Homo sapiens: one gene and its partner. The protein of the gene in region 1 interacts with the protein of each later gene in a pairwise test. Each region holds a gene or a part of one and is shown on either strand. Other genes may lie near its edges.

Evidence for each region.
Region 2: the proteins of ASB3 (region 1) and CRACR2A interact in binary tests that used the Homo sapiens proteins (3 or more experiments, as listed by UniProt).

Annotation. Positions count from the first base shown.
Region 1 is NC_000002.12:53,775,543-53,784,841, reverse strand, and holds part of ASB3 (ankyrin repeat and SOCS box protein 3), read left to right. Parts: intron 1-9,299. UniProt on the Homo sapiens protein: Probable substrate-recognition component of a SCF-like ECS (Elongin-Cullin-SOCS-box protein) E3 ubiquitin-protein ligase complex which mediates the ubiquitination and subsequent proteasomal degradation of target proteins. Recognizes TNFRSF1B.
Region 2 is NC_000012.12:3,616,184-3,625,482, reverse strand, and holds part of CRACR2A (EF-hand calcium-binding domain-containing protein 4B), read left to right. Parts: intron 1-6,110; coding exon 6,111-6,212; intron 6,213-8,452; coding exon 8,453-8,529; intron 8,530-9,299.

The DNA of each region.
Region 1 (9,299 bases):
AAGTCCTATCCCCTAGAACCTGTGAGTGTGAACTACTTGGGATAGGGTCTTTGCAAATATAATTCAAGTAAGGATGAGGTCATACTGAATCAAAGGGGGCCCTAATCTGGTGACTGGTATCTTTATAAGAAGAGGGAAATTTGGATACACATGGACACACAGGGAGAATGCCATGCCAGGAAGGAGGAGGCAGCAAGATTGCAGTATGTGTCTATAAGACAAGGAATGCTAAAGATTGCCAGTAATCACCACAAGCTAGGAAGAGGCAAGGAAGAATCCTTCTTTAGAGCTTTCAGAGAGAGAGAATAGCCCTGCTGACATCTTGATTTCTGACCTCTAGTTTCTAGAATTGTGAGACAATCAATTTATGCTGTCTAAGCTGCTCAGTTTGTGGTCATTTGTTACAGCAGCCTCAGGAAGGTAATAGAGGATGAAAACCAAAAAGTAGTTGAGACAAGTCTCAACCAGTTTAGAAGTTTATTTTGCCAAGGTTAAGGACGTGTCACAGACAGCCTCAGGAGGTCCTGACAGCATGTGCCCAAAGTGGTCGGGCTACACTTGGGTTTTACACATTTTAAGGAGCCACAGGACATCAATCAGTACAAGTCTTTTATGCTTTATTTATAGGTTGATTCTTAAACATTGAAAACTTATCAACTATTTACCATATTGTAATTATACAATCATCATTCGCTATAAAACTATTAAGTATGATTGCATCTGCAGAGAAAAAATGTAATTCTACCTCTGCCAATTAAGGTATCCTATTAGCTTCCTAATAATGGCACCATGTTTGCTAAAATAAACTCATTTTGCTCCTGAAGCTGTATTTCCAGCTCTCACACATGTAATTTAGACTAGTTGCTTTACAAGTCAGTTGCATACCTGTTTACTGAGATTTTTTTGTATCATGCCTGGGTTAGGTCTACTGCTTTATGTATTCCATGTCCTCATTTGTCATAGATTTTTTTCCCACCTTGTAGGGGTATAACTAATTTCAAGCAATTTTTTTCAGGAAGGATTAAACAGGTAATTTAATTTCCACAGACTTCATATGTCTGAAAATGCCTTTACCTTGCCTGCTCATTTAATGATAGCTTGGGAATAGACTTAGTCCACAATCATTTTGTTTTCTTCAAAACTCTGAAGACATTCTCTTGCTTTTTGTGTCTAGTGTATCTGATGACAAGTCTAATGCCAGTCTCTTTCTTTTGCAGGTATCATACTTTTTTCTCTGGAAGATTTTATTAGACTGTTTTCTTTATCATTGGTTCTGTGATATTTTATCAGTGTTTCTAGGTGGTGAATCTTTTTTCATTCATCCTTCTTGGCACTCTATGAATCCTATTTTTCACTTCTGGGAAATTTTCTTCAATTATTTCTTTAATTATGTTCTTGACATTTTCTCTGTTCTATTCAGAATTTAGATAGGTTCTTCCAAATACATTTAGATAGATTCTTCCAAATACAGAGGAAAAATATAAAAAGAAAAAATACATAATACGAAGGATCAATCCAAGAGGTCCATTTCCTTGATTTTCAGTTCTTTTCACTTTCTTTTTTCAGTGGTTTTTTCCCCACAGTTTCTAGTCATCTAGTTATTTTTAATGGATGCATTGTTCTCATGACATGAATTTCTTTGAGGATAACACTTATAACTTTTAAATATTTATGTCCCATTCCCGGAAATAGCTCTGCTTCTTTCAGGTCAGTTGTTTATTTTCATCCTTTCTGTCTGTTGTGCTTTTACTTCAAAAAAAAAAATTCTTGGCGGGGCATAGTGGCTCACACCGGTAATTCCAGCACTTTGAGAGATCACCTGAGGTCTGGAAGGTCAAGACCAGCCTGGCCAACATGGTGAAACCCTGTCTCTCCGAAAATAAAAAAATTAGCCGGAAGTCTTGGCAGGCTTCTGTAATCCCAGCTACTCAAGAGGCTGGGGCAGGAGAATCACTTAAACCTGGGAGGCGGAGGTTGCAGTGAGCCGAGATTGCGCCATTGCACTCCAGCCTGGATGACAAAAGTGAAACTTCATCTAAAAAAAAAAAAATTATTGAGCTCTTTTGTAAGTGAGCAGGGTACTAGCTGTTGGGTCTAACTTTAGGGTCCTTGAGTGAAGTGCAAGAAACGAGTTGCCTCTTTCCTCCTCTCCTTCCACCCTGTACCCAAATAAGGAATGCTTTGTTATGGAACATGAAGATGCTCAAAGGCTTCCAGGGTAGACTGTTAAATTAAAAAGAGCAATAACAACAAAATAGATGTGGTTTTAGCCAGAAACAAATACTGTTGCTGCCAGGCGTTTTGTGTGTAAAGGGCTGTGGTAAAAAGTTTGGCTTGCTGTTTCATATAAATATTATAATAATTCTGATTTTAGTCCTACGTCCTTCCTCTGCTTGTTTCTAAGATTGGTACCTCTCCAGGCTCTGCTGGCAAGAATGTCTTCTACATTGCTATAGCCTTCTCATGTATGCATGTGTGTGTGTTCTGGACTGCAGTTTTCTCTGCACTGGCTTAATCCTCAGCATAATCCTACCTGCTTTCTCTTCCAGAATGAATGAGTGCATTTCAGTGCGATTTTGTTAGGAAGCGGAGGAAAATGTATGTGCTTAGTTTGCCTTGCATAGAGTGAGTAATCCATTGTTTTTTTGTTTGTTTGTTTGTTTTTGAGACAGGGTCTCGCTTTGTCACCCGGGCTAGAGTGCAGTTGCATGATCACTGCTCACTGCCATCCCAACCTCTGGGGCTCAAGCGATCCTCCCATCACCTCAGCCTCCTGAGTAGCTGGGACTACAGGTGTGCACCAGCCTGCCTAGCTAATTTTTTTATTTTTTGAATTCTTGGTTTCCCAGAGTGTTGGGATTACAGATGTGAGCCATGGCACCCAGCCAGTACTTGTTGAATAAATCAATGCTGTTGAAAAAATTGGGCAAGGCATACTGTTGTTTAAAAAGAAAATTATGGCTGTAGGAGATAAGTAATTAGGTGAATCTTTTAAATCCTGTTTTAAAAAGTCCTATTTTATTTTGTCCTAATTAAAAAAGAATCTCCGCCGGGCGTGGTGGCTCACGCCTGTAATCCCAGCACTTTGGGAGGCTGAGGCAGGCGGATCACCTGAGGTTGGGAATTCAAGACCAGCCTGACCAACCTGGAGAAACCCTGTCTCTCCTGAAAATAGAAAATTAGACAGGCGTGGTGGCTCATGCCTGTAATCTCAGCTACTCTGGAGGCTGAAGCAGGAGAATCACTTGAACCTGGGAGGCAGACATTGTGGTGAGCCAAGATGGCGCCATTGTACTCCAGACTGGGCAACAAGAGTGAAACTCTGTCTCAAAAGAAAAAAAAAATGGAAAGAATCTCAAAGGGGTTAAGCCCTACCAATGGAGGTACAAAATGAGATAACTACCATCTCTCACTTTTTTTTTTTTTTTTGGAGACAGAGTCTCACTTTGTTGCCTAGACTAGAGTGCAATGGCATGGTTTTGGCTCATTGTAGCCTCAACCTCCTGGGCTAAAGTGATCCTCCCACCTCAGCCTTCTCAGTAGCTGGAACTACAGGTGTGCACCACCACGCCTGGCTAATTTTTTTTGTATTTTTTGTAAGAGATAGGGTTTTGCCATGTTGCCCAGGCTGGTCTTGAACTCCTGGGCTCAAGTGATTTGCCCCCTCAAGCCTCCCAAAGTGCTGGGATTACAGGTGTGAGCCACTTGCCCGGCTTCCTTTTTTGTTCTTTTTAAAATTGTAGGCCTTAATTTCATTTTGTTCCTGTTCAGTGCTTAGCACAGTTCCTGGCATGTTGTAAATGTTCAATAAATGATACTACATTTGTTTTACTTAAGCAATTTTCATCATCGTAGAAAATAAGGATTAAATGAGTTAATATACATAAAGCACTTGGAATAGAATCTAGCATATAGTTAGTGCTACATAAGTGTTAACCATTATTCTCTGACACATGAACACCTTTTTGTTTTTTCTATGAAGCTTTCTCTGATTCTGCTACTTTGAATTGGTAATTTGCCTTTCTGTATTCTGGTTGTATTTTATTTATTTGTTATTAGTTTTAGAGACAGAGTATTGCTGTGTTGTTCAGGCTGAAGTGTAGGGGCCTTATGATAGCTCACTGCAGCCTTGAACTTCTGGGCTCAAGAGATCCTTCTGCTTTATCCTCCAGAGTGGCTAGGACTGCAGACATGTGCCACTATGCCCAGCTAATTTTTACATTTTTGTAGAGACATGGTCTCACTATATTGCCCAGGCTGGTCTCAAACTACTGACTTCAAGTGATCCCCTTGCTTTGGCCTCCCAAATTGCTGAGATTACAGGCACGAGCACCATACCCACCCCTCTGCTTGTATTTTATATCACATCTTTTATATTAAATAACATAGATTTGTTTGCTTGTGTGTTTCTCCACCAAATATGATTCTTGATAGCCGGGGACTATCTTATTTATTTTGGTGGTCTCAGTGCATAGTCATTGCTTGCCACATAACATTAGTTCGCTCATTTGAGCTAGGTCTTAAAGAATGAGGAGGGTGGTGTGATTGGAGCATGAGGGGCAGGGGAGTACGTCAGTGGGAAGTGAAATTTGACAAATACACTGATACCAGATTGACCAGATGGTAAGTAGTTGAATGCCAGATTAAAGGATTTGAATTTATTTTATATGCAGCAGGAAGACATTTTGATTACTGACCTCAGTTTCATATTTTAGGTAAGTAATTCTGAGTGCACAGTAGAGCGTGTATTGGAAAGAGGAAAAGAGATTGGAAACAAGAAGAATATGTAAGAAACTCTGGCTCTTGATGTATGATAAGGCTCTTTAGTTGAGAATCTTTCAGCATGTAACCTTTTACTATCATGTAATCTTTTAAGCCTTATCACAAAAAGCCTTCAGGGCTTCCTTGGTAACTTCATTTTGACTTTGTTAAAAGAAAAACTTTAGACGAAATCAATTTATCAGAATTTGTTTTTGTGTTAAAGGATTAATGAATTTGGCAGCACCCAAAATTAGAAGTAGTTCAGGGAGCTCTTGTTTTAACAGAGTAAGCGGCAGACCTTTGCAGGCTGAATGTGGAAGCGAAGTAAAGAAATTACTTGATTGGACTGGGCATAGTGGCTCATACCTGTAATCCCATCATTTTGGGAGGCTGAGGTAGGTGGATCACTTGAGCTCAGGAGTTCAAGACCAGCCTGGGCAACATGGTGAAACTCCATCTCTACAAAAAATGCAAAAATTAGCCAGGCATGGTGGCACATGCCAGTAGTCCCAGCTACTTGGGAGGCTGAGGTGGGAGGATTGCTTGAGCCTGGGAGGTTGAGGCTGCAGTGAGTTGTGATTGTGCCACTGCACTCCAGCCTGGGCAACAGAGCGAGACCCTGTCTTGAAAAAAAAAAAATTACTTGATTGTCATAGCTACTTGTTTGTCTTATTTGGGTACAATCTGGCAGAAAGTTGCTTGTTAGAGAATAGTTGTTGGTTTCTGATTAAAATTAAGTTGTGACATCCTATGGATTGGGAGGAAATATTTGCAAGCCATACATGAGATAAGGGATTAAAATTCAGAATATAAAAGGAACTCAAATAACTCTATAGAAAGAATACAAATAATCCAGTTAAAAAATGGGCAAGGAACCTGTATAGACATTTCTCAAAAGAAGACATACAAATGGCCAACAGATACATGAAAAAATGTTCAACATTACTAATCATCAGGGAAATGCAAATTAAAACCACTATGAGATATCACCCCAATATGTGTCAGAATGGCTACTATCAAACAGATGAAAGATAAGTGTTGGCAAGGCATGTGGAGAAAGGGGAACCTCTGTACACTGTTAATGGCAATGTAAATTAGTACAACCGTTATGGAAAACAGTGGCAGTTCCTCAAAAAACTAAAAATAGAATTACCATATGATCCAGCAATCCAACTTCTGGGTATTTACCTAAAAGATTGGAAATCAGTATGTTGAAGAGATATCTGCACTCCCATGTTCATTGCAGCATTAATCACAATAGCCAAGATACGGAATCAACCTAAGGGTCCTTAGACAGATGAATGGATAAAGAAAAATCTGGTGTACATACGTAGTGGAATACTATTCAGCCTTAAAAATGAAAGAAACTTTGTCATTTGTGACGACATGGATGGATTGGAGAACATTAAGCTAAATGAGATAAGCCAAGTACAAGCAGACAAACAACATATGTGCTTACTTATATATTTAATCTAAAACCGTTGAACTAAAAGAAGCAGAGAGTAGAACAGTGGTTACCAGGGTTGGAGGGAAGGCATGGGGGAATGGGGAGATGATAGTCAAAGGGGAGGAATTTTTTTCTTTGAGATATGTTGCACAGTATGGTGAATATAGTGACTAATAATGTACTTTATACTTGCTAAGAGTAACTTTTAAAAGTTTTCACTACAAAAAAAATTTGAGGTCATGGATATGTTAACTAGATTTAATTATTCCACATTGTATTCATAAATCATCACTTTGTACCTCATAAATATATAACTATAGTCAGTTTATAATTAAAAAATAAAAAGCAAAGATTAAGTTTTGTTTCACTGTTTACATTGGGCTTCAGTTTGCTTACATAGGAACCCAGAGTCCTAGGACCATCTTAGCCAAATGGCCTCCAATTAAAGATTGCTTACACTCTTTTTTTTTTTTTTTTTTTTTTTGAGACAAGAATCCTGCTCTGTTGCGCAGGCTGGAGTGCAGTGGCGCCATCTTGGCTCACTGCAACCTCTGCCTCCTGGGTTCAAGCAATTCTCCTGGCTTAGCCTCCCAAGTAGCTGGGACTACAGGTGCCCGCCACCACACCTGGCTAATTTTTTTGTATTTTTGGTAGAGACGGGGTTTCACCATATTGGTCAGGCAGGTCTCGAACTCCTGACTTCAGGCGATCCACCCGCCTTGGTCTCCCAAAGTGCTGGGATTACAGGCGTTAGCTACCACACCTGGCCAAGATTGCTTACACTTTTTAAAAAATGTTATATTGTTTTTAGTAAAACAAAGGGTAAAATTTAATAAAAAGGCACAAACACATTTTGTGTATATTGTGAAAATACCATCTATTTCCTCCAAAAGCTTATAAATTGATATGAGTATCATAAACCTGTTTATTTTTCTCCTGGACTAAGTATTGTTCAACGTTTAATGTGTATTATGTACAGGGAGGTAATGTGGGACCAGATTTTCTGGTTGGGAAAGGAGATGAGTACTGGTTTTAGTACAATAAGTTTCCATGCTTGTGTAGCACAACTGGAGATGCCTTCATGTAACAGACATATGAAGAGGTTGAGAGAGTAGGCTGGAGATTGGAAGCTATCCAAGTAAAATTGAAGCCTAGGATTTGATGAGTTTGTGTATTTGATAAAGAATAGTGTAAGAGTTGTAACTGGAAACACAATGAAATGTTTTTGTCTTTGGCTTTAGTGACATGGGATGCTTGATCACTAGTGTCTGATGCACCAGAGAAGCATGAAAATTGCAATCTTTGGGTTCAGTGAGGAAGTGGTCATTGGAGACTTGATACTATAATGATTGGGTGGTATGGCAGAGTAAAGTTGAATTGGAAAGGGATTAAGACGAGTTGATAAGGAAGTGAAGCACTGTGTAGTTAAAAAATTTCTGTGAAGAATAAGAAAGCTGGAAGAACACAAGAAACTGTAGGATTAGTGGTGGTTTTTCCAGTTACAGTGTGTGTACATGTGTGGGCGAACCATTTATAAAGAGAAGGAGGCTCAGTACAATTAAGTAAAACAACCAAGAAAATGAAACTGAAATATAGTATTTTAGAAAGGTAAAATGAACCATAGGAATGAAAAGTCCCTGAAATCCAATAAAGCTAATTTTCATCATATAAATTTGACATACAGAAGAAAAATTTTGGTATTTTAATTGTCTTTGGAAGAGTTAAAATTCTTCAACATAGTAGCCACAGGATTACAAAATCTTTGAGTCTGTAATATATGCTTAGAGTGAATTCAAGGTTTTATTTTAGTTTTTTGAGACAGGGTCTTGCTCTGTTGCCCAGCCTGGAGTGCAGTGGTGTGATCATGGCTCACTGCAGCCTCGAACTCCTGGGTTCAGGCAATAGTTCTGCCTCAGCTTCCTGAGTAGCTGGGCCTACAGGTGCATGCCACTACACCTGGCTAATTTTTAAATTTTTTATAGAGATGGTGCTCTTCTGTTGCTCTGGCTGGTCTCTAGCTCCTAACCTGAAGTGATCCTCCCTTCACAGCATCCCATCACAGCACTCCAGAGTACTATGATGACAGGTGTGAGCCACTACACTGGCCAAATTCAAGGTTTTAGAAATCCATAAAAATAGATTGCCAAAAGCTGAATAAATTAATAGACAATACAGTCAGTATTTTTGCTGAAAAAAGATAGGCATAACAGGAACATTTGATAGGTAACTTTTAGCGTGATGTGATGAAGAGAATTTTAAAGCACATTTATCATCTAATTGCCTGGAAAGAAAGAACCAGGGATGGTAAATTAGAAATTTAATAAATTTATCACCCTTTCTGTTTTACAGGACAAGTGAAATGCCGTCTGGAAAACTAATATTTAAAATGTTGGAAGATATTTAAAGTAGATATGTAGCTGAGTAAATTACTAAGATGTTAATAAATAGGAAAACATGAAAAGGACATGTAGGACAGCTTTATGTGAAAAACTTCTGTACTAATTATTAGTCATGCCTGAGTTTAAGGAGCTTTTAGTAAGTATATTGTGTTTAGTTTTATACTGAAGTTCTTATGGTGAAAGATTCTAGAGAGATTATATGTCCTCTTGAGAAAGAAATAACCTATAATCAGGAATAACCTGAATGGTTTGAATCAAAGTTAATTCTATGTGAGTTAATAACTTGTTTCCTAGTTGAGTAGCAGCATACACCCAATTGATACTCTTCTTTAGGTGACAAAATAAAGAAAAAAGTTACGTACAAATAATCAGGTAATGCCACTTCTTAAAAAAATACAATCTATGCAGGTAACAAAATGGCACTTGTAGCCCATAAATTTGTACAAATAAAAAATTATAGGCCGGGCATGGTGGCTCACACCTGTAATCCTAGCACTTTGGGAGGCTGAGGCTGGTGGATCACCTGAGGTCAGGAGATCGAGACCAGCTTGGCCAACATGGTGAAACCCCGTCTCTACTAAAAATACAAAAATTAGCCGGGCGTGGTGGCACATGCCTGTAATCCCAGCTACGCGGGAGGCTGAGGCAGGAGAATTCCTTGAACCTGGGAGGTGAAGGCTGCAGTGAGCTGA
Region 2 (9,299 bases), on another chromosome or scaffold:
CTGGGATTAATGGGAATGGATGGTGACAAATTTGGGGAACTACGCTCTCTGCTGTCATTAGGGGGTGTCGTTTCTAAGGCTCCTGTTTTGCACAGAGCCTGGGATCTAGAAGAAGAGGTGGAACAGTTTGGTGGTGGAGGTGAAGACATCTCAGAAGACCATCATCACAGCTTGAAGCATCAGTTTAGTCATCCTCCAGAGACGTTGCTTTGTGGGACGGGGCTGAAATCATCAGCGGCGTGTGGCTGCTAAGAGGCCCACGGAAGCCTTGGTGTGTCTGTGGGCTCGGGAAGCCTGGCTGAGATGGCAAATCTATACATAGTTAAATCAGAATTGCTTATGTGTAAACAGGGCTTTTCTATATGATTTCTAGTTTGAGTTTTTCCTTTTTTTTAAGATATTAGCCAAAGGTACATTTAAGCTCTAATTGATTATTCTAAACCTGGGTGAACATCAGGATCACACGTGGAGCTTTTAAAGGGAACAGAGGCCAGGGGCCAGGGCCTTCTCTCCCAGAGTGGTTCAGAGCCTGCAAATAAAAAATAAAACGAACAGCTCCCCAGGGAATTTTGATTCTCAGCCACCACTGTTCCCGGCTAAACAAGCGCTCCTTGAACCCTAACATATATAGGACTCTCCTGGGGAACTTCTTAAAATGCAGTCTCTGCTTCAGCAGGTCGGGACTGGGGTCTGAGATTCTGTGTTTCTAGCAAGTTCTCATGTGAGGCTGATGCTGGTGGTCCAGGGATGACCCTGTGAGTAGAAGAGCTCTAAGTCATTTCCGAAGATGCCTGTGACCCCTCACCAAGGTTTTACTACACATCTGCGGCATGTCCAGCACACACTAGGAGCTCTGGGACTCAGTATGATAGACCAGGCAATGCGTTCAGTTCAGCAGCACAGAGTTTCAGAAACAAGTGCAGGAGGCTGTGTCAAATGGCAGAGTGTGTGTTGAAGGTGTGGAACGGTGGCATCATAAATGCAATTATTCTCTAGATTCTTGAAAAGCTAAGTCATTCTGCCTTGGCAACCAGCAATCAGAGGTGTCAGGTGATAGATTAAAACTTGACACCTAATTTGATCTGAGGGGAACTGAAAATAATAAGTACCTTATATTTGTGGAGCACCTTATTTTTCCAAAGAGCTCTGAGCACTTTACCAACTCCCTCGCCTGGAGAAGGGAGGGTGGAGGGGGAGCTTTAATAACAGTCTTCAAGGTTCTGAAGCCTTATTAGTAAGTGAATGGTGGCCAGCTGTTCACAGTCCCCCTTCCTCCCTCAACCTGAAAAGCATACAAGAAAAAAGGGCTTCAGTTGCTGTACATGCCTGCATGGGAAAGACTCTTGGAAGAGGTTGTGTGGGGTGGGAACAGATGCTCGGGGGAGGTAGTGGAGTTCCCTGAAAGGAAGTTCTTACTATCCCATCTTGATCACTTCCTGGCCATGAAACTTTGGCCAATCATTCAACAAGGCAGCAGACCAAATGCTCCCTCCTGGCCCCTAAATTTCTACAGTGTATGATGGCATTTGACTATCTCTCTGGGAGGCCAAGACGGAGCAGGAATGTGTGTGGATGAGGAGATTCTGGAGGGTCCTTCCAGCCCAGAGGGAACCAAAATCCTTTGGTGCAAGAGAGCACCAGCACTGCTTGATGAGATGGGAAGACTGTGGCCTTGCCCTTGTTCTGCTATTTCACCCAGTCTAGGCAACTTTACCTTGCCTGCAGGCCTTCTGCAGAAGAGGCCCAGCAGATGCCCTCTGTGCCGATTCTCCTGAGTGCCTTATAGGAAGTCACCGCAGGCAGTCTTTCGGCCAACTCGGCATTTCCAACCCACCCCCAATTTCTTATCTCAATTGGGTAGAATTGGTTTAACCATTCCAATCTGGAAAAGAAACTAGTCAGGCTCTAAGGCCCCACGTGTGGCCATGGGACAAACTGGACATCAGAAGACTCTGGGGCCTGTGTCGGGTAGAGAAAATAGAAATTAGAACGCCAGCCTGTACAAGCCTGTATGGGCTGGTATTTCCCCCAGAGCCGGATTGCTGGCCCCCAGTGTCTGCAGTCCTGGGATGCTGAGCTTCTTGTTTAGAGCCTCTTGTCGTTCTGATGGCACTAGATTCCTGGGCATGTGAGTCGAGGAAGTGAAATAGAATTGGCGGAGTTAAGCCGAATAGACCAGTGTTTCCGAGCTGGAAAAAAACGTGGAGATTAATCTAATGCAACCTCTTGTTTTATAAGTAAGAAAAACTATGATCCAAAAAGAGGAAGTGACTTTCCCAAAGGCGCCCACACTTGTCAGCAGCACCACCCGATCTAGAAGCGAGGGCTTTGCCACACTGCACTGCTTCTCTCTTGTCCTGTGGTCCATGGCTGAAATCTGCTCCTGAAAAGCAGGTGTTCATTTACTTTTCAGTCCTTCTTGCTTCTCTCTCAAAGCAGAACAGTTCTTCAGCTCAAGGGGTCCTGGCCCACTTCCCTCTCCCTTCCTGGGCTGCTAGCTAAACCTCATTCTGCGATCTTTGTCATTGGTGACAATGTACAGCATGGTGCAAAAAATAGCAGTTTGATTTTTTTTTCTCCACGTTCCAAGTTGAGCTTGAAGTGCTGGCAGTTTAAAATGAACCACACAAATAAATCTTGTTTTGACTCATAGTCCAGGGGATGGATAAATATGGAAACCCCCAAGATATAATTTTGCAGGCATTTTTTTTCTTAGCATAACTGCATGCTTTAATGTGCTGAAAAAATTTTTGCTCTAGCTCCAGAGAAATAGCAGCACTATCCCAGCTAAGTGCTTTTTCATGCCTCCTAGCAAATAGATATTAAAACGCACGCACACACACACACACACATGCACATAGGCAACAACCAACCAAACCCAGCAGCTGCACATTCTGAGCTGAATGCCAATCCACTGCTCCAAGTTGACAGCTCTTGTTATTTAAAGTCAGAGATGGGTGATCTTTTGAATTTCAACAAGTCTGTCTTCCAACAAGCTCAAGTTCACAGAAAGGCAGCTGAAATAACTGAAGGTGGAGGGAAGGCTCTCTGTTAGAGGGTCATAGAACAGAACCTGGCTTTGGAACAGAGAGACACAGAAAAGAGGAGAGACTCAGATGAGTCACATGGAGAGATGGTGACAGAGCTAGGGCAGAACCCACATCTCCTAAAGAGAGATTGTGTGCCTGATGAAGGAGCTAAGATGACTTCACTCCAACCTGTCATGCTGATGGGATTTTTACCAACATCTCTCACAGTCTCAAGACAACAGAGTTTGAGTAGACCTGAGACCTGTTCACCAAAGCCCTAGGGGCTTGAAGGAGGTGTTGCTTCATCTAGGAGGTAATTTTGAACATCTTGTGCTGAGTGGTATGCAGGCTGAAAACCTAGTTAGGTATGAGAAAGGTGTAAAGTTTAGACAGATAGTTCCAGACTTTTGGGGTCAAAGTCAGAGAGGACCATGAGACACCTACCCCAATACCAGCTCCTCTCCCTGCCCCTGTGCCAGAGACTGATGACCTTGGGCCAGGGTGATGGTGACTGACTGTGATAGTTAGCACACTCCCTGGTCTTATGGGTATTCTCATTTATTTTTGCCAAATATTTGGAGATGAGTCTGTTTCTCCTTTATCGGTGGCAGGCCAGGGTCCCTGCAGGGAAGCCAGTTGTCCAGAGTGGCTGTGTAAGAGAGGAACAATACAAAGAACAGAAACCGCAGCTCCTGCTGAGTGCTTTGCTTTTAAATTTTTTTTTTCTGCTCCTTCTAAGCTCCTTTATTTTTATATCCAGGAATTGCTTTGGTTTTTTTTTTTTTTTTTTTTTTTTTTTTTTTTTGACAGAGTCTCTCTCTGTCACTGAGGCTGGAGTGCAGTGGCACAATCTTGGCTCACTGCAAGCTCCGCCTCCCAGGTTGAAGCAATTCTCTGCCTCAGCCTCCCAAGTAGCTGGGACTACAGGTGCCCACCACCACACCTGGCTAAATTTTGTATTTTTAGTAGAGACAGGGTTTCACCATCTTGGCCAGGCTGGTCTTGAACTCCTGACCTCATGATCCACCCACCTCGGCCTCCCAAAAAAAAAAAAAAAGAAGAAACCTGCCCTTTCTTTTCCCAGGACGCAAGAGGCACCATTGCTGTTTATGGTGCATAGGACCCAGATGTTGGGCTTATGACCCATTCCCTACCCCATCCTATTGGGTCATTCAGTATCCATCATCCCCTCTGCAAGCGAGGAAACAGAAGCCAGTGCCCATTCCAAATAATACCAAAACCTGGGGTAGAATTCTGCCCTGGGATTTCAAGTCTGATGCTCATATTTTCAGAGTTTCCATGTCAAGAAATCCCACAAGCCTTAATCATTCCTCACACATAAATCTACAAATATCTCTCTCCCATGTGCTCTAAACAGCAAGCCGCTTGGCCCATTTCCCTGCTTCCTCCTCCTTTCTTCCCTTTCCGTGAAAAGCTCTTCGCACAAGTATCCCGTGGCACAGCACGGTCAGAGGAGGGGGTGTTCCCATTAGTGAACGCTCTAGCTAATAGGGGGCCACAGGGTTCCATATATGCCATCAGTGGCTTTCTCACTTTCAAGTAGTTGGAATATGTACAATCCACTTAGGACATCAACTGCAGTGTCCAGAATTTAATCTATTTTTGATGGGTCAGAAGACACTGTAAGATCTTGTAGCGCCTTTGAGTCATCATTGCAAACACAAGTTACCATCTGACCAATAGATACCATTTTTAGAGGGTTCCAGTTAATAAGATACTAAGTAGCAGAGACTTGATTGGAAATAAGAATCTAGAGGAAAAGGTTGGAGAAGTGAGGACCCATATACTAAAGAGTTCTCATAATTCAGTGCTTATGGTGTTGAATGTTCTTTTTGATTCTCTGAGCCTTAACTTTCTCATTTGTTAAATAAGAATTTTTTTCCCCTATTAAATGGCAGTAAAAACGAATGCACAGATTAAGGAAACATTGAGGCTTAATTTCAAACATAATAGCATTTAAATTTAAAATTGGTATATCTGTAAGATGGACTTTGGACATTTATTTGAAATGCTCAAGTAAAACAGCTAAAGTATTGGCAAAACTGTAACTGCTTATTAGCTTCTGTTATCCCACAGGTCCCTCTATTTAGTAAAACATTTAGCTACAATGAATAACTATTTGTTACTAAATTATGATTAAAAGCCCCTAATTAAATATTTAAGTAAAAATAACAACCTTCTTCAATGTGCACATTACCACATTTACTCACTGAATGGCAGTCGGTGGTCCCGGGCCCTTTGGGCGCCCTCAGGAGAGACACACACGGTGCCCCTTTCACCAGGGAGGAGGTGGAGACCCGGGAAGCAGGCCCCTGGCTGGTAAGCCACAGCCATTGGGGAAGTAAACAATGTGATACCTTGAATAAACCTGTGACTTCTGGCCCAAGCAGTGCAGCTGCTATGGCCACAGTGTTCCTTCTTACACAGGGCTTTCTTCAGAGCCAAAGCGCCCAGTGACAGGGGTCTGTGGTGCCAGCCTCCAGCAAGGCACATGGCAGTCATTTATGGAGCCTTGTGGGCGCAAGACCATGAGGCAGATTTGGATCCAACCCTCAGAAGCTTATGTGCAATCAGGAGGCCTCTAGTGATGCAGTTTCTAATCAAAGCAGCCTCCAGAACAACTCCAAACCATGGGGCATTCATGGCCTTGGTCCATCGGACTAAGCCTGGCCAATTAGGCACGCCCTCAGGGTGCTGTAAGCTCTGGAAGGAGGCATGCAGCCTGTTGGCATCAACTGTCCCCTCATCCAGCACACCTTGGGGGGCCTGCTGTTCCATCTAAGATCCAAGGAGCATCGTGAAGGGGGAGCGGTCATTGCACACACAGGGACTAGGAGACACCACAGGCAGGCCTCAGGCACCTTGCAAAAGCATGATAAACTGAGGCTCTTGGAGAAGGCGGCTGTTTTCTGCTTTCAGGATGACTCTGTTACGGCCTCACCTTTTATGGCAGCAGGGGATTCTCAAGCGAGGTCCCATCTGTCCAGCCGGCATTGTTAGCCTGCCCTCTGGGCAATCCTATGACACCCCTCTCAGTTGAAAACATTTTCTGTTCTGCAGGAAGCTGTGGGAGACCGGGTGCCTGTTCTTCTGCTGGGTAATAAGCTTGACAACGAGAAGGAGCGGGAAGTCCCCCGGGGCCTCGGAGAGCAGCTTGCCACGGTAAAGAGCAAGCATTTCCATCTCTCTGGACAGAGTGTGACCCCGAGGGAAGTTGGGCAAGTGCCCAAGAGCCTTGGTGGGGACTTTCTCTGGAAGTGCCATGGGAAGGAAGCAACTGGAAAACATGGGTGTCTTGGTATCCTGGGAATGGCTCAGCTCCTGTGCATGTAGAACTTTGCATAGAAAGCCACAGGTTGCAAGATGGAGTTGGTTAGGGACCACTAGGGCATGGGGAATTATCCTAAAGTCCCTTCCTTGTAACTCAGAAGTATACATTCTAAGATAGCAATAGTTTACTTATTTCAATCCCCCTCCAATCTGCATTTCCACTTGATCACCCCCAGGGATGAAAAACTCACTCTCTGCAAAGCAGTGTATTCTTCTGCAGACCACTGTGTTAGAGAGTTCATCCTTTTTGTCAGGATTGAGCCTCAAAGTCATGAACTCAAGATAAACTCAGGAGACACACTGGAAAACCTACCATTAAAAAGCATGGAGCCCCTTGCTCAAAAATGGAATCAATGGGGCTTAATGGAAATCAGGCAACAAAATGTGGTTCCTTGGCTTCTTTTACTGCCTCAGAGTTTGTTTTCATGGAACTGTGTGTCTGGGAGGTTGGGGTGCTTACCAGCCCCATGATTCTGTAATTCTTTGCATGCTCATCCTAAACAGCGTTTCATGAGTTCAGAGCCTGGGAGAACGAGCACAGATGGTAAGACTCAAGGAAAAAGGAGGAGGAAGGGCCTGGCAGGTATCTACATGGAGGGTCACTAGACAGTTACATGTCCACAATTCCGAAATCCAAAAAGCTCTGAAAACAGAAAGGGTTGTTTTGTATTTTATCTGGCAGAAAAATCTGACCAGAAATGACACGAGGCTATTCATGGTTGTAACCTCACTTTGAGTGAATAGTCAAAGGTTTCACTGAAGAAATAGTAATATATTTGATTATAGAGTGCTGTCTGAAATCCACTGAGGGTATTATATAATATATGGTATATACATGTATTACCTTTCTAAGATTCAGAAAATTCTGGATTTCAAAATATACCTGGACCCAAAGATTCTATCCATTCTCTTTTCTTTTCTTTTTTTTTTTTGTTAGTGAAAAAAAAACTAAGACTCGGGAGTTAAGTGATACATTCGTATTATCACAGCTCACCCGAGGTGGGGTCAGAACTCAAAGCAGGAAGGCAAATCATGTCTTCCAGTTCTAAGTCCTATGTCCTTCTCTCCCCTCCCCACTATTCCCACCCCATGGAACTTCTACTCTTTGACAGACTGACCCAAGAGATTGCAGATCTGAGAGAAATGCAGACAAGGAGAAATAGAGCCCATGGGGCTGGGTGAAAAGGGCAGAGGGTCGAGCTGGCCTGTGGGTGTAGATGGGGAAAGCTGCACTGGGAGCATGGCAGAGCCTCCTGAGCTACAGCCACAGAACTGTCCTCACTCAACTGGCCTGCATCCCCTCAGGGCATCAGCCTCCAAGAACAGGCCATCTAAAAGCCAGGGCCCTGTGCCATCAGCATTGTCATAATGACACCAGTAATCTATTAATGGGAGTGATCAATGGAATATGATGAGCCTTAACCAAGGGCTCCCGCACCATGCAGGCAGCACAACCTCATCCTAATGAGCTGACGGCCAGTCTGGTGCACCAGTGCTGACAGCCAGGGCAGCTAGAGTATTAATTAACTGGTGCGAAAGAGAATTCCTACCGGAGTGCCTCATGACACCTGTCCCCAAGGCCTATGGAATGCCACTGTCTTGGGAAAAGCATGCTGCAAGGAGCTCTGCCATTAACTCAATGTGGGACTGAACAAGCCAGCCAAGTGCCCTCTCTCACTACAGCTTATCTGCCTGTGAAAGGGGGAAGAATATTGCCCACCCTGGCCTTTGTGTCTTTGCCTGAATCACAGGGCTGGTGTAACCTGGAATGAGCATGTGTGTACTTGAGAGGAATTTGGGAAAGTGTAAAGAGGAACTAAGACAGCGTATGGTTTCATTGTTTTACAATTGTTATAGCTCACCTGGGAGATGGTTACAGAGCTTGCATTGTCAGGGAGGCTGTGGAGACAGAAATCAGCCATGTACAGAGTGGGGAAGGATTATGAGGAAGGTCAAGGGGCTGCGAGAGGAAGTGAAGGCTGTAGGTAGATGCACAAGGGGGCTCTCCCACCACCCCCCACAATCCCCTCTCACTCCAATACTCTTGTATTCGCTCTGTTTTATGATTCTAGGAGAACAATCTGATCTTCTATGAATGCAGCGCCTACTCTGGTCACAACACCAAAGAGTCCCTGCTCCATCTGGCCAGGTAAAGAGATGTGCTCCCCAGGTGCAGTAACTGCTGTGTCCAGCTGTGTCTGCCTTCAGGGAGGCACCGTGTTTCCCTCCACCCAGGCCACACCTCTGACCCCCCTTCCTCCCTATTGGCCAGAGCCCTCTGAGTATAGGCAACGGGGTCCTGGGCCTTTGTATGGGATTGCAACATCAGGAGCAGCTTTCTGAAACAATGATGTTGGGAAAGAAAGCATCCCTACCTGTCACCCCCATTGCAGTCTTCTTCTTAGTCTTAAAGGCTGCCTTTTCCTAGGGATGCTCTTTTTAAATGCCAATCCTTCTGGGGGAAGGCCAGATCAGAGGCCCCTCAGCACTGGCTGATGTCTTAGCAGGGACTAGCTGGAAGCCAGCTGGAGGCAAGAATGGGTTATAATATGAGTTCCTGGGTGTGGGAGGAAGGAGTGGGTGTAGAAACCAGAAAGAAGAGGGGCTGTGATGGGAAATCAATGGGAGGTAACCAAGGTAATGGTGCTGGTAGCATGAAAAGACTGGTTCCTTAAGGCCCTGCCTACACCAAAAATTTAAACAACAAAACCATGCTGGGACTCATTTCTGATACTTAAGAATTCACTCATTCATTCATCCATCTAGGCCTTCATTTCATTCCATCTATTCATCCGTCCAGCAAATACTTAACAGAGCCCATTTTGTGCTCAGCACTCATTCTGGGGCACTTAAAAATATTTTTCTTTGAGTAATTAAGAGCCCAGAACAACTCCTCTATGCATTGGCGAGGTTATAGGG